2 separate regions of the Homo sapiens genome follow, and region 1 is linked to region 2. A link means that fine-mapping ties the variant in region 2 to the expression of a gene that starts in the linked region. Tissue or cell type: subcutaneous fat. Region 2 holds a variant in brackets; the other region holds the start of a gene. All regions are shown on one strand. Distances are between the middles of the regions.

What was found. PIP is the estimated chance that this variant, and not a neighbour inherited with it, causes the effect.
Region 1: CRYZ starts here. The variant in region 2 is fine-mapped to the expression of CRYZ in subcutaneous fat (GTEx, PIP above 0.99). The same link has a PIP of 0.9 or more in caudate, fibroblasts, lymphoblastoid cells, skeletal muscle and whole blood.

What each region holds. Positions count from the first base shown.
Region 1 is chr1:74,731,868-74,734,535 of GRCh38, reverse strand. It overlaps CRYZ (crystallin zeta), which reads left to right and starts at 1,486. Exons shown (of 9, transcript NM_001889.4): 1 at 1,486-1,580. TYW3 (tRNA-yW synthesizing protein 3 homolog) reads right to left here and starts at 1,384. Exons shown (of 6, transcript NM_138467.3): 1 at 1,118-1,384. The coding sequence starts at 1,291. RefSeq lists enhancers at 770-869, 1,250-1,539, 1,094-1,804, 2,400-2,668.
Region 2 is chr1:74,710,021-74,712,520 of GRCh38, reverse strand. It overlaps CRYZ (crystallin zeta), which reads left to right. Exons shown (of 9, transcript NM_001889.4): 6 at 2,274-2,423. Among named protein-coding and RNA genes, the nearest start is that of CRYZ, 22 kb to the left of the region's middle. The variant G/A (reference allele first, on the strand shown) is at 1,457.

The DNA.
Region 1 (2,668 bases), 22 kb before region 2:
CAACCTCAGCATATGCTGTTTTTTCTTTCCTTAAGTCTTTCCTTAAGAACTTTCACCTTTTCACTTCAAAAAAGCACTTTAAAACTTACTGTTGGCAGATCCAAATCGCCAGCATCATTACTCCCGTACTTTGGGGCCATTATTAAGTAAAATAAGAGTTACTTGAACACAAGCACTGTGATACCACCACAGTCGATCTGATAACCCAGAAGGCTACCAAGCAGCTAAAGGGCAGCAAGAATATATAGTGGAATATTCTGGACAAAGGGATGATTCACCTTCCATTCTGGAAGGAGCTGGTTGGCTCAAGATTTTATCACGCTACTCAGAACAGCATGCAATTTAAAACTTACTAATTGTTTATTTCTGGAATTTTCATTTAATATTTTCAGACTGCTGTTGACTGGGGTAACTGAACCTGCAAATAAGGAGGTATGGCTTGTACAGCTGCTTCTTGATTTATGATGGGGTTACATCCCAATAAATCCGTCATAAGTGGAAAATGTAAGTCAAAATGCATTTACTACCCCTGTAAACCCATCATAAAGTTAAAAAAAAAAGTCTAACCATCCTAAATTATATACGATCGTACTTTTCTCTGCGTAAAACTACTAGAGTTGTAATAATGGAGGGGCTCACTAGGAGGCAGTAAACTCCTTAACACTGGTGATGTTCAAGCATGCAGTAACAATGATTTGCCAGAGCTGTTGATGAGCGGATTCCGGCATTCAATACCTTAGCAAGCTACAAAGTCTTTAGATTCCCTTAGTATTCATATAATAAAATCAAATTTTCTAAACTTTGCCACACAAGATAGTTCCCAGGTCAGCAGTTTCAACATCATTTGGGCACTTGTTAGAAATGCACAGTATCAGGCCCTACCCTACACTTAAAGAATCGGGATCTGTATTTTAAAAGATGCTCAGCTGATTAATAGCCACGTTAAACTTTTAGAAGCACTGATCTAATCCCCTAAATTTCACATATAAAGAAACAGAGACCACCCCTCAGAGGAGCAAACACAGACATGCTGGATCCGGTCGTCACTGGATGGGAACAGGGCTCCTGAAGTTTCGCACTAGAAGGCAGGCGATGGACAGGCGCAAAGGGGCCTCACCCGGTCAAGGAGTAGGATGCGGCCAGCGCAGGAGCTGGTGGTGAAAAACTGATCTCGCATGTTCAGAAACTGCACAAGCTCTACCACATCCTCGTCAACACTGCCCTTCCGGCTGAGGTCCGCTTTGCTCAAACATTGCGCCTTCCATTTCCTGAACTCCGCGCTGCGATCCATGGGTGACGGACTCAGGGTCTGCGCTCGGCTCCTTCATGGTAGCCTCGTCTCTCCCTGGGGGCAGCCATATTGAAGCGAGCGGTGGCCGAAAAGGTCCAAACTTCCTCTTCGTTCTTAATTTGGGAAATTCTAGTGCCTTCGCCTAGGGGTGGAGAGAGGCGCACATCCTGGGTGGAGCGAGGCGCACATCCTGGGTGGAGCCTGCAAAAGTTGGAGAAGGTGTGGCAGTCCTCATTTCTGTGGAATCTGAAGAAGCCCACGCAGATTTTAATTCCCACTCTAGATTCTGGTAAGTGGTTTTAAAAACTCTCCTTAGTTGTTTAGACAGCGAATCTCCCCACTGCTCGTCCAAGTGGAACCGAGTTTGATTTTGGCTGCACCCCTTTCCTGCCCTCTGTCCTCCCAGAGAACTAGTGCGTAGAGCTCCAGACCGAAGCCATTCCCCTCCAGGGGCTGCAAGTTCCCATCCATAAATCAGGTAGGAAGTTTTGCCTTCTGGTCCTGGGCTCCTAGCCCTGGTCCTGCGTTTAGGCTCTGAGTTTAGGCTACCACACCATGAGGTGTCCGTTGGCACTACCCCTGCCCAGCCTCCGCCCCCCGCACTCCCTGTCCCCCAGCCCCACGCTGCACCCCCCCCCCCCCCCCCCGCCAGTCACCCGCTTGATTTTTCCCTGCAGCCAGTGCCTGGGTTTGGGGATTCCTGCAGCAGCGCCCAGCGGTCTGTCCAGGGCCCCTTCCCACAGCCCAGCTCTCAGCTGTAGAGGATTTGTCCTAGGTAGGGCCCCTTCCCACAGCCCAGCTGTAGGGGATTTCTTCTCCTAGGTAGGGCCCCTTCGCACAGCCCAGCTGTAGGGATTTGATTTCTTCTCCTAGGTAGGGCCCCTTCCCACAGCCCACCTGTCAGCTGTAGGGGATTTCTCCTAGGTAGGGCTCCTTCCCACAGCCCAGCTGTGGGGGATTTCTTCTCCTAGGTAGTGCCCCTTCGCACAGCCCAGCTGTAGGGGATTTGATTTCTTCTCCTAGGTAGGGCCCCTTCCCACAGCCCACCTGTCAGCTGTAGGGGATTTCTCCTAGGTAGGGCTCCTTCCCACAGCCCAGCTGTAGGGGATTTCTTCTCCTAGGTAGTGCCCCTTCGCACAGCCCAGCTGTAGGGGATTTGATTTCTTCTCCTAGGTAGGGCCCCTTCCCACAGCCCAGCTGTGGGGGATTTTTTGTCTTGGATTCCCACAATTACAGGTTTCCCGGAGCTTCCTCCAGCTTTGCCATCAGGATTGCAGTCTTTGAGAGAAATGTATAGTTTTATTGACCCTGTGACGCCCACCACCTAGAATAATCTTCAAAAGAAAATTACAAAACACCCTGTTAACACATCGTTGG
Region 2 (2,500 bases):
GGAAGTCTGTTACAGCTTTAATCTGTTTCTATCATTATTTTTCATCTTAATTCTTTTCTTGCCGAACCCGGTCCTCCCTGTAAATCACTGGTTATGAGTAGCGGGTGATTTTGCATCATTTCTCCTTCCGCTCTGGGACATTTGGCAATGTCTGAAGACATATTTGGTTGTCACAACTTGGGGAAGGGGTTCTGGCATCTAGAGAGTAGATATCCTTCAATACATGGGATAGTCTCCCACAGCAAATAATTATCTGGCCCAAAATGTTGATAGTGCCAAGTTTGGGAAACTCTGCTCTAAATGTATGTGACACTTATTTGTACCATCATTTGTCATCTAATCAGATATATTTCCTAGTATTGTTATTTAAGTAATTGCTCTTTTGTCTATATTCTTAAATTACTTTGATTTCTCTTTTATACTAAGCACATTTATCTGGTATTCTAGTGATTTCTTACAATCCCAGCATTTTGGGAGGCTGGGATTTTGCCAGGTTGCCCAGGCTGGTATCGAATTCCTGACCCCAGGTGATCCACTCACCTCAGCCTCCCAAAGTGCTGGGATTACAGGCATGAGCCACCATGTTCCACCTAATCCTTTGGCTTTAAATACCATCCGTAAGATAATGAATCTCTAATATATATCTCCAGTTGAACCCTTTTGAGTCCATACTCATATTCAACTGATTGCTGAACATCTTCGCCCGTAAGTAGATGAGCACTGTGCAGCTCAGCATGTTACAAGTGATTCTTTTATTTTTATTTTTTAGAGACAGGGTCTTGCTCCGTTGCCCAGACTGGAGTGCAGTGGCATGATCACTGCAATCCCAAACTCCTCAAATTCCTGGGCCCAAGCGATCCTCCTGCCTCAGCCTCCCACATAGCTGGGATTACAGGCATGCGCCACCACACTTGGCAAAGTGAAATCTGGAGATTTTCACAAACTTAGTGTTCTCCAGTCTTCTCACTCTACCCAGTTAATCTGGCCAAAGACATAGGAGACAGCCTGTATTTTTCTCTTTTCCTCATCTCCCGCATTCAATCTGTGAGGAAGTCCCATTAGCTTACCTCTAAACTATATCTGAATTTGTTTATTTTTTCCAGTGCCACCACCTTTGTTCAAGCCAGCTTCATCTCTTATCTAGACTGTTCTAACAGCTACAAACTGATCTTCCTCCTCCCATTTTCCTCACCGCTTTCTTTGTGCCTCACATGTAATTGGAGCAACCTTTTTAAAGCCTGAGTCAACCAGATCATTTCCTGGCTTAAGCTCTCCCGTGGTTCTGCACAGGTTTTAATATACTCGGAAGCCTCTACCCTCACCCCTCAGATTCTGTGTGACTTGGCCTTTCTGGCCTCATCTTCGACCCTTTCGTACACGCCCCTCCCTGAGACACACTGCCCCTCTTTCTGTTCTTTGACCCCAACTGCATTCCCACCTCGCCAGGTTAGCCATG[G/A]CCATTCACTATGCCCACAGCATCCTCCACGTGGCTGACCGGATGTTCTCGTGGCTTGTTCCTCACTTTTTTCAGGTCTCATTTTTTCAGAGTGGCTCTTCCTGATGACCTAAATAGCCCCTATTCCTGTCTCTTTAACCCAACAGCCAGTCTTATTTTTTCTTAGCACTTTTATTTCCTGAATTTATTTTATTCATTCATATGACTATTATCTTCCTCCACCCTTAGAATATAAGTTTATTTCTTACATTAAGTACCATGTCTAGCACATCGTAAACACTCTATAAACATTCACCATATGGATGAATTAGTTAATTTGCCCATATACCTATCTCTTCTACTTAAATGGTGGAGGCCTTACATTTGTTATTTAGAATTTCATATGCACAAAGAAGTCAGAGAGCATGTTCTGATCATCTTTAAACCCTGCAAACATCTTGATGCAGTGGTTAAAAACTCAAGTTCTGCAGTCAGACTGGTCTAACTCCTGTTTCCATCTCCGCATATGACTTGGCCAAATTACTTATAATTTGAAGCTTCAACTTTCTTATCTGTACAATAGGGACAATAATAGTATCTACTTTATAGGGTCATTGTGAGGATAGAATAAAACAATATGTAGAAATTATTTAGTATGGTTCCTGGAATATTTTAAATGCTCAATTAAAGTTAGCTGTTTTTCTTATTTCTTCATTTACACTCTTAAGTTCCTTAAAGTTAGGGTGGGTCCTATAGGAATCTTAAGTTCATTGTATGTATTTAAGTGTTTACAGGAGTGTAGAGAATATATAACTCTTGGGTTATATTTGTTTTTCAGGTTGGATTAGCAGCATGCCAAATTGCTAGAGCTTATGGCTTAAAGATTTTGGGCACTGCTGGTACTGAGGAAGGACAAAAGATTGTTTTGCAAAATGGAGCCCATGAAGTGTTCAATCACAGAGAAGTGAATTACATTGATAAAATTAAGGTAAAATTTTCCACTGTTTTACAAAAGTCAAACTTTGTTCCTTGGAGACTTGCGTGGTTTTTTAATATGTTTTTAAC